Linked DNA regions of Homo sapiens. The protein of the gene in region 1 purifies or fractionates together with the protein of each later gene. This does not show direct contact. Each region holds a gene or a part of one and is shown in the gene's direction. Other genes may lie near its edges. The genes, in order: GJA3, SNX25 and PRMT2.

Region 1 (3,305 bases):
TCTTCCTCTTTGTAACAAGAGAGCTTACATCCAGAGCTTTTGGCAAGCAATATCCCATAGACTGTATCAACTTCATTGTCATCAAGGAATTTATTCTTTTTTAAAAAAGGGGAGTAAGTCTTTATTTCCTTACTTCCAAAATAAAGCTGGCTGAGTTGGAATATATTTACTCTTAAAGCTACCATCCATTGAAGGTATTAGTGCCGATTTTCCATTGACAGTAGTAATGTAAACTTTCCTAGTTGAGATAAATTTAAGCATAAAGAGTTGATGTGAAGACAGAAAAAGCAAATAGTAGAAGAGGTATCAGATTAACATGGCAGAAGTTCTGAAGGTGGCATGGGCATGGGGATGGCAGCAATTTGGGAAGAGGTTGCTCTAATCCCACCTGAACAGAAAGGTCATGATTCAGAAGTGGCCTAAGGGGCCGCAGAGCCCCAGAGCTCCTGTAGGGTCAGCCTCAGGGAGAGGGCTTGAGCAGTCTGGAGGCCAGAGGAGGGCATTTTCTCTTCTGGCTCTGGCTTCCTCCTCTCTGAAATGAAGAGTTTAACCTGTGGTTCCTCATGGACGCTTGCACTTGTGTAGTGCCTGCTCGTCCAGGTCCTGGGGAGCTGCGATGCCTGTCCTGTGGAGAAGCTGCCCATCAGCCCCATCCCAGTACCATCCAGGCCGCTGCCGCCGCCCATGGGTGCGGACCCGGCACTCAGCCGTTGCAGCCCGGTGTTCATGAGCATTTTCCTCTTACAGGTTAGGAATCTGAAGCAATGGGCGACTGGAGCTTTCTGGGAAGACTCTTAGAAAATGCACAGGAGCACTCCACGGTCATCGGCAAGGTTTGGCTGACCGTGCTGTTCATCTTCCGCATCTTGGTGCTGGGGGCCGCGGCGGAGGACGTGTGGGGCGATGAGCAGTCAGACTTCACCTGCAACACCCAGCAGCCGGGCTGCGAGAACGTCTGCTACGACAGGGCCTTCCCCATCTCCCACATCCGCTTCTGGGCGCTGCAGATCATCTTCGTGTCCACGCCCACCCTCATCTACCTGGGCCACGTGCTGCACATCGTGCGCATGGAAGAGAAGAAGAAAGAGAGGGAGGAGGAGGAGCAGCTGAAGAGAGAGAGCCCCAGCCCCAAGGAGCCACCGCAGGACAATCCCTCGTCGCGGGACGACCGCGGCAGGGTGCGCATGGCCGGGGCGCTGCTGCGGACCTACGTCTTCAACATCATCTTCAAGACGCTGTTCGAGGTGGGCTTCATCGCCGGCCAGTACTTTCTGTACGGCTTCGAGCTGAAGCCGCTCTACCGCTGCGACCGCTGGCCCTGCCCCAACACGGTGGACTGCTTCATCTCCAGGCCCACGGAGAAGACCATCTTCATCATCTTCATGCTGGCGGTGGCCTGCGCGTCCCTGCTGCTCAACATGCTGGAGATCTACCACCTGGGCTGGAAGAAGCTCAAGCAGGGCGTGACCAGCCGCCTCGGCCCGGACGCCTCCGAGGCCCCGCTGGGGACAGCCGATCCCCCGCCCCTGCCCCCCAGCTCCCGGCCGCCCGCCGTTGCCATCGGGTTCCCACCCTACTATGCGCACACCGCTGCGCCCCTGGGACAGGCCCGCGCCGTGGGCTACCCCGGGGCCCCGCCACCAGCCGCGGACTTCAAACTGCTAGCCCTGACCGAGGCGCGCGGAAAGGGCCAGTCCGCCAAGCTCTACAACGGCCACCACCACCTGCTGATGACTGAGCAGAACTGGGCCAACCAGGCGGCCGAGCGGCAGCCCCCGGCGCTCAAGGCTTACCCGGCAGCGTCCACGCCTGCAGCCCCCAGCCCCGTCGGCAGCAGCTCCCCGCCACTCGCGCACGAGGCTGAGGCGGGCGCGGCGCCCCTGCTGCTGGATGGGAGCGGCAGCAGTCTGGAGGGGAGCGCCCTGGCAGGGACCCCCGAGGAGGAGGAGCAGGCCGTGACCACCGCGGCCCAGATGCACCAGCCGCCCTTGCCCCTCGGAGACCCAGGTCGGGCCAGCAAGGCCAGCAGGGCCAGCAGCGGGCGGGCCAGACCGGAGGACTTGGCCATCTAGTGCCCGGGTGCCTGCCTCCAGACAGCTGTGTAGTGATCTTTTTCTTAGAAACCAAAACCAAAGTGCACTTCCCACCAGCAGATAGAACCTGAAAGTCCCAGGAGGTGGGAGCGACTGGAGTCCCAGGAGGTGGACGATGGAGGAGAGATCAGGTTTCCGTGTTCAATGCTTGCTGTTCTTAGCACTGTGAGTTACAGTGGGGATAACTCCCACTTTCTGAGTTTGGGGGTGGCGGGGACAAGGGTTGTGGGCCTTTAAGATCTTCACAGCAGCCCAGAAATCTGGTCGCTGAGGGCTGTCTCTGGGGGTAACTGTTCTGTAGTGGTAAAGCAACAGGTATCCTGCAGTCCCTTTAGCTCCTGGGCAATTGGGTTTGCTATTCCTAAGCTCTCCAGAGCCTCTGGGCGGCCCAGAGGGTCTTAGCTCTGGGCCAGAGCACTTAGCTCTATCTCTTTGATACTTTTAACTTAGAGTTGAATTTCATTTGGGATATTTGCCAAACTGCACTAAAAAAAGATTTACAGCAAGTCTATGTAGTGTCATTTGAGTTTCCGAAATTGCATGTGAAGCCCAGGATATCAAGCTTCAGGCCTCATGACAAGTGACAAAGAGCAGTTGCCCTCCAGAGGCAGGCTCAGTGGGCAAGGGCCCCAGAGGTTGCTGGCAGAAGGCAGGTGGAAACGCAGCCACGCCTGAGGCCATTTTTAAACAGTTGAGGAAATTGACATAAAAGTGTGTCGGGTATGCCGTAGGTATTTATTTTCTAAATGATTATTTTGTGCTTTGAATGGTGCAGCTATGCCTATTTTCTCCCACTTTCTTTCAGGAAAAATGAAAGAAAAATAGTGTTTTTCTTTCTTTAAATACTGTTAGAATGATTGCTGACCAAGACAGTGCTAATTTGCCCTAATGCATGCTACTAGCATCTTTACTAAAGATTTTGAACTTTCTTGTAAAAGAAATTCTTTAATTTCATGAGTCACCTAATTATAATGAGAATGTATTATATAAAACAAAAGCAGGGGAAAGTTTTAAGTGCATTCAAATAGAAGTTCTGAAGATTTTGAATGGGAAGTGAAAAGTGAACTACTGTTGCCAGGAAAATTATTTATACAGATGAATCTATGACAATCTACACTTTTAAAAAGTACAGAATAAAACACTTCAAGCTTCCTAATCATTCTTTGTGGGCAGCCTGTTTGCTTTCTCCAGTGTAAATAATATAAGTGTCTG
Region 2 (3,656 bases), on another chromosome or scaffold:
ATATTACGTGTGTGTGTGTGTTCAAATTCTTTTTTTTTTCTTTAAATAGAGATGGGGGTCTTACTATGTTGCCCAGGCAAGTCTTGAACTCCTGGGTTCAAGTGATCCTCCCACTTAGGCCTCCCAAAGTGCTGAGATTACAGGTGTGAGCAACCATCCCTGACCACAGTCAAATTCTGATTAGCATATTTACTTAAAATATCTTTGCTATATGATTTGTTGATAATGCGTATACAGTAATGCATTGCTTAACAACAGGGATGTGTCCGAAGAAATGTGTCATTAGACAATGTCATTGTGCAAATATCATAGAGTGTACTTACACACCTACATGGGATAGCCCACTACACATGTGGGCAATATGGTGTAACCTATTGCTCCTAGACTATAAACCTTATACCATATTACTGTACTGAATACTGTAGGCAATAGTAACACAATGATATTTGTGTATCTAAGTATAGAAAAGGTACAGTAAAAATATGGTATAAAAGATAAACAACAGTACACCTATATAGGACACTTACCATGAATGGAGCTTGCAGGACTGGATGTTGCTCTGAGTGAGTGGGGAGTGACTGTGAAGGCCTAGGACATGACTGTGCACCACTGCAGACTTCATAAACAGTGTACGCTTAGGCTACACTACATTTATTTAAAATTTTATTTTCTTCAATAAATTAACCTTAGCTTACTATAACTTTTTTTACTTTATGAACTTTTAATTTTTTTAAACTTTTTGACTCTTTTGTAATAACATTTATCATCATTATCAAGTATGCACTGTACATAATTGTATGTGCTGTATTTTTATACTATTGACAGTGCAATAGGTTTCTTTACACTAGCTTGACCTCATTAAATGGTAGAAAATTTTCAGCTTCATTATAATCTTATGGGGGCCACTGTCATATAGTCAGTCTGTTGTTGACCAAAATGTCATTATGTGGCGCATGACTGTACATAATTTTGTGAACTTGGAATATGTAAAAAGGAACTGTACCACAATATAATGTGATTACTAGAAAAAAGTTAACTATATCCAGGGAAATGCTTAGTCAGGATAAGAGAAACTTTCCCTATCTCAGTCTCAGACAAATAGCATTGCATTTGAGATGCAGTGATTATCTCATTTACTATCTCAGGATAAGCCAGCTGTGCCCATCAGCTATTATAACCAACCACAGAGAAGAGAGGAAGTTTCTAATCTCAAGTTACAAGGATGGCTTTGTAATAGTGTCATTGACTTTTTAACTTCCTCTCTGAGGTCTGTTTTAACCAGTTGGGGAGAATGTTGACTTTCATCCTTTGGCAGACTAAGCTTGTCAAAACGTATTGAGCCTTATAAAATAAGTAAAAGAAAAAAATCAGTGTTTTTTTGGTTGTTGTAATTTTGTGGTTTTTTGTTTTTTGAGATGGAGTCTCACTCTGTCGCCAAGGCTGGAGTGCAGTGGCGAGATCTCGGCTCACTGCAACCTCTGCCTCCCGGGTTCAAGCAATTCTCCTGCCTCAGTCTCCCGAGTAGCTAGGATTACAGACATGTGCCACCATGCATGGCTAATTTTTGTGTTTTTGGTAGAGATTGGGGTTTCACCATGTTAGCCAGGCTGGTCTCAAACTCCTGACCTCAAGTGATCCACCTGTCTCAGCCTCCCAAAGTGCTGGGATTACAGGTGTGAGCCACCACGCCCGGCCTTAATTTTGATAGATTTGTTAGCAACTTGAGTTCCAAATGACTTCCCTTCATGATTCTTTTACATTTCACTTATTTATTAAAATGACAACTTGATTATAGCCATGGATGATAACATATTTGGAGGGATAGGCAGCTGTATGTGTGCATGTGTGTACATTTTTGAATTGTTTATTGTATTATATAGATATTCCCCTGTTTGACTACTTGAAAAATGTTTCCCAAATGTAGTCTCAGTTATGTGATACATAAACAGTTCCCTTAAAGAAGAATACCTTTCTCAGTGGCTATTTCTTCTTCTTCCTGTAGTCTTGAAGCCGGTAGTGGAGTTACTGAGTAATCCAGATTACATTAACCAAATGCTGCTTGCCCAGCTGGCGTACAGAGAGCAAATGAATGAGCATCACAAGAGAGCCTACACCTATGCCCCCTCTTACGAGGACTTCATCAAGCTCATTAACAGCAACTCTGATGTGGAGTTCTTGAAGCAACTAAGGTATTTGGTCTTCAATTATAGCACAGCAACAGCTACTGATTATCATCCCCTGCCTAGTTAGGTTAAAAAAAAAAAAAAGTAGTTGTCAGGGAAGCAGAAATAAAACAAGTCTATAAATCTTACTATTTAGTGACAGCTAAATTTATCCAGCGTCTCCTTAGCAGTGTAATTAGAATGAATTTTTTTAAAGTATTAGGTTTTTCAAATACAGTTGACTCGAACAATTTGGGGCACCCACGCTCCCCACCGCCCCCACCCCCAGTCAAAAATCACATATAACATTTGACTTGGGCCAAGCACAGTGGCTCAAAAGTGCTGTAATCCCAGCACTTTGGGAGGCTGAGGTGGGCGGATCACTTGAGGTCAGGAGTTCAAGACCAGCGCGGCCAACATGGTGAAACCGCATCTCTACTAAAAATACAAAAATCAGCTGGGTGTGGTGGCACATGCCTGTAGTCCCAGCTACTCAGGAGGCTGAGGTATGAGAATCACTTGAACCTGGGAGGTGGAGGTTGCAGTGAGCTGAGATCACACCACTGCACTCCAGCCTGGGTGACAGAGTGAGACTCCTTCTAAAAAAAAAAAAAAAATTGACTCTCCAAATACTTAACTACTAAATACCTTACTGTTGACCAAAGCCTTACTAATAACATAAACAGTTGATTAGCACGTATCTTGTGTGTTATATGTGTTATATACTGTATTCTTACAATAAAGTAAGCTGGAGAAAAGAAAATATTATGAAAACCAGAAAGAGAAAATATATTTACTATGCAGTAAGTGGAAGTAGATCATCATAAAGGTCTTCATCCTCATCTCTTCACATGGAAGTATGCTGAGGAGGAAGAGAATGAGGAGGGGTTTGTCTTACTGTCTCAGGTGGCAGAGGCAGAACAAAATCCTGTGTAAGTGGACTCATGCAGTTCAAACCTATGTTTTTCAAGAGTCAGCTGTAATGAGGCTATAATAGACTGAAAGCTCTTCAGATGTCGGGAGTACCTGCTTAGCTGCTCAGATGACTACCTTAGAAAAGCACTGGAAGGACATCAGAAGGAGAAGATGTGTTTCAAATTACAGAGTAGAACATTGTGTTGGTTTTTGTTTGTCTTGGACAGTACAGAGGCTTGGGTTTGGGAATAAGAGGTTCTAGATTAATTATTTTGAGAAAACACATTTGAAAATACCATAGGAGTATCTTTTATAGGGGAGCACAGTGTCCCTTGTTATACCTGAGATATTTTAGGGGGTGTGTATTTTTGTGTATTTTTAATAGTATATACACATTTAGTATGATTATATAGTATTATCTAGTTTGTAAATTTTCTAGGCTTCTGTTTCTCTACCCTTCTTTTTAATGTTCCCAAATGATAATATAGGGGAAAGAAAGAAAACTCTTATATGTTCATTTTGCTTTTCATTAATAATTTTGGTAAAACCCTGATGGAAAAGTAAAATATTGGTTGAAAT
Region 3 (3,656 bases), on another chromosome or scaffold:
AGTAACTGTAATAGTTTTGACCTGGGAAGTTGGCTGAGCAATCCTCTAATATCTGATGCTCCCGATGCTGAGGTTGTGGGGAAGTGTGCACCGCCATGCCCTTTTTTTGGCAGTGTAAATTGGTAAAGCCTTTTGAAGGAAAATAGGGCAGAATAAGTCAAAGAGCATTAAAATTTTTTTGTTTTTCCAGAAGCAGCAAAGTTCTGAAGGAGACGCAAGTAAAGATACCACAGGTGTCCTAGATTGTCAACAGACCATTTAATCATTTTTGTTAACAAAGCAGGTGACAATTGAGCCCTAATTTGCGTTATCATTAGTTGTTACAGGATCTTGCTTGTTCTCCTGAGGCCACGCCACGATTTCCGAGAAGCAGGTTGCACACTCAGCAGTCTCCCACTAGCCAGTGGCACTGCAGGTGCAGGGGCTGCCTCCTGGACCTTTCAGGACGCTTTGCAAGGTCACTGAGGATCTCCATTGCACATTTGGTAGAATTAAAAGACTGCCAGACTCAGTCTTACTGTTGTTAGTGTATTCGTGCTGTCAATATGTGATGAGGACATATTATATTCCGTTATTCTCTTTAGCTCAAGGAAGAATAAAGAATTTGGACCAAAATTACAACCACATTATGACGAATTTTCTAAGCAAAAGAAACAAAGTAACTGCTGAGGTTAACAAAGATGTAATAATTCTCTTCACACAGCCTTGTACTGTTTTATTGACTGTATTATCACAAATCCTGAGCTTAACGAAAGTCTTTATAAGTCAGCTCATGAAAACAGGCACGTGGCCAGTAAGAATTTAATTTCATACCAATAACACTTCAGACTTCGGATGTATTTAAGGCTGTTTGCACATATTTATAGAATGTGTGGTGTAGATGATGGGACAGCTCCCCCTCAGCAAGACTCTGGCCTAAATGTATTTGCTTTATTTACACAACAAGAGGATAAGCGTAAACACGGGCACTTTCAGTTTGTGGCACTGAAGGACGATCTACACAGGGCACCCTGCAGAGGCCACAACCAAGGCCGCCTGGCTTCCCAGTGGGACAGGCCTAAGGGAGGACTTCTGGCCCCTTTGCTTGATGTTCATGTTTTATGCCTTGATATTTCTTTTTGGTTGCATTCCCTGGAGCTCATGTAGATCATTTTACTTTTCAGAGGTGCTAGTTCTGGTGCCCACACGCACACACACAAAACCATCAACTCTTCTGGATTCCTTGGTTTTAAAGCTTGCCTCATACAAAGTACAGAGACATCTTTTTCAGGAAACATTGCCACCACATGCTTGAAGGACCGCTTATGGCTACACTTAGACATCTCCAACCAAGGTCTCTTCACCTCCTTCTACAACAATGCACTTTGTCTGCACTGGGACAAAAAATGACAGCCTTTTTTCTTTTCTTGTTTTTTTTTTTTTTTGGCGTGGAGCATTTCCGAACTTTCACGTCATAAAAAATGCAGCATAGTTAATCAGCAGCTTGCACTTCTGAGGGCACATTCACCTCGGGGGAGGAGGAAGGAGGAGGAGCTGGTGGGTGCTGAGACTGCAGTGTCCTCCTTCCCAGCAGCTGGACCCAGAGACCAGGCACCAAATTTTTTTGATGAAATTATCCTAAGGAAATAATCAAATTTGTACAGAAATTTATGTTAAAAAATGTTCATGGCAGCACCGTTTAAAATGGGGAGAAAATTGGAAACAACAGAATTGTAGCAATACATATGATCATTAAAAATTATGTTTTAGAAAGATTTTTAACAGTCTTTGGAAAAAGTTGGTGACATGTTGCTAGTTTTTAAAAAAAGTACAGAGTATGTACAGTATGATTCCAATTTTGTGTTTAAAAATTAGACATAGTGGTAACCTAGCTTCAGTTCCAGATAAGATGGAGAAGGCATACTCCTTTCATGTCTCCCACTGAATGCAGCTATAAATCCTGGAGAGTAGACAGGGAGAAACTATTTGAGGACTCTGGAACAAAGACATAGTAGCAATCGACTGGTGAAGAAGACAAGAATTTGAAGTACGGTCAAGTATCTGTGGGCTCCACATCTGTAGATACAACCTACATGTATTGAAAATATCAGAAAATAAAAATAACAATACAACAATAAACATCAATACAAATAACACACCAATACAGTATAGCAGCTACTTACATAACACTGACATTGTATTAGGTAGAAGTAATCTAGAGATGATTTAAAGTCTGTCGGAGGATGTGTGTAGCCTGTATGTAAAAACCACGTTATTTTATATGGGGGACTTTAGCATCCAAGGATTTGAATATCCACGGGGGTCCTGGAACAAGTTCCCCATAGACACCAAGAAACAACTGTATTCCTGAAACAGTCTTGAGTTATCATTTTCTTTCTTCTCCCTCTATGTATGTACATAGAGTGTACATACATAGAGTGAGAAGCAAAGAAGGTCCATGAAATGGACCAATTCTTTTGAAAACTGCAAATTACCACAGTTCATCTAACATGAAATAGATAACCTGAATGGTCCAATAACTAGTAAAGATATTGAATTAATAGTTTAAAAACCTTCTGAAAGGTAAATCTCTACCCTAAATGATTTCACTGGTGAATTCTATCAACACATTTAATGAAGAAAAAACTCCAGTTCTAAACAACTTTCAGAAAAGAAGAGGGAACACTTCCTCACTCATTATATGAGGTAAGCATTGCCCTAATACCAAAACCAATGTTAACACAAAATATGAAACCTACAGACCAATAACCCTCATGAACATAAATGTAAAAATCCTCAAGAAAACATTAGCAAATTTAAACCAGCAGGATATAAAAGGAATAATAATACACCATAACAAAAAAAGAAACTATCCTTGGAATGCAAGGCTGGTTCAATATTTGAAAATCAATCAGTGTAATCTACCATATTAACAGTCTGAAGAAGAAAAATCATGATTATATCAATACAGAAAAAAATTGACAAAATTCAACATCAGTTCATGATAAAATTCTCAGCAAACTAGAAAGGGAAGGAAATTTAACATGACATAGGACATCTACAAAAAAACCTACAGAAAATCCTAAGGAGTCTATGAGAAAATTTCCTAAAACTAGTAAGTGAGTTTAACAAGATCACAGAGTGCAAGGTCATCATACAGAAGTCATTTTTATATCTTAGCAATGTACAATTAGAAATTAAAGAATATCACAGTAGCTTCAAAAATATGAAAGGCTTAGAAATCTAACAAAATGTGATCTGGATGCTGAAAATGATGAGATGATAATGAAAGAAACCCCAGAAAACCTAAATAAATGGAGAGATAAGAAGGCTCAACCTAGTAAAGACGTATGTTCTTTTTAAATTGATCTGTAGACTTAATAAAATTCCAATTAGAATCCAAGCAGGATTTGTTCTTATAGATAAGCTCATTATGAAATGTATATGGAATGTAAAGGAACTAGTGCTATGGTTTGTCCCCACCAAATCTCATGTTGAAATTTGATCCTCAGTGTGGTGGTGTTGGGAGGTGGGGCCTAGTGGGAGGTGTTTGGGTCATGGGTGTGGATCCCTCATGAATAGATGAATGCCCTTCCTCGTGGGTAGATAAGTGAGTTCTAGCTCTTTCAGGTCCCAACAAGAGCTGGTTGTGAAAAAGAGCCTGGCACGCCCACTTG

What was found.
Region 2: the proteins of GJA3 (region 1) and SNX25 purify together in Homo sapiens (affinity purification with mass spectrometry; one large-scale study listed by BioGRID and IntAct). This does not show direct contact.
Region 3: the proteins of GJA3 (region 1) and PRMT2 purify together in Homo sapiens (affinity purification with mass spectrometry; one large-scale study listed by BioGRID and IntAct). This does not show direct contact.

What each region holds. Positions count from the first base shown.
Region 1 is NC_000013.11:20,140,748-20,144,052, reverse strand, and holds part of GJA3 (gap junction alpha-3 protein), read left to right. Parts: intron 1-747; 5' UTR 748-764; coding exon 765-2,072; 3' UTR 2,073-3,305. UniProt on the Homo sapiens protein: Structural component of lens fiber gap junctions. Gap junctions are dodecameric channels that connect the cytoplasm of adjoining cells. They are formed by the docking of two hexameric hemichannels, one from each cell membrane.
Region 2 is NC_000004.12:185,264,967-185,268,622, forward strand, and holds part of SNX25 (sorting nexin-25), read left to right. Parts: intron 1-2,002; coding exon 2,003-2,189; intron 2,190-3,656. UniProt on the Homo sapiens protein: May be involved in several stages of intracellular trafficking.
Region 3 is NC_000021.9:46,652,528-46,656,183, forward strand, and holds part of PRMT2 (protein arginine N-methyltransferase 2), read left to right. Parts: exon of another isoform or gene 1-317; coding exon of another isoform or gene 318-527; exon of another isoform or gene 528-2,570; intron 2,571-3,656. UniProt on the Homo sapiens protein: Arginine methyltransferase that methylates the guanidino nitrogens of arginyl residues in proteins such as STAT3, FBL, histone H4. Acts as a coactivator (with NCOA2) of the androgen receptor (AR)-mediated transactivation.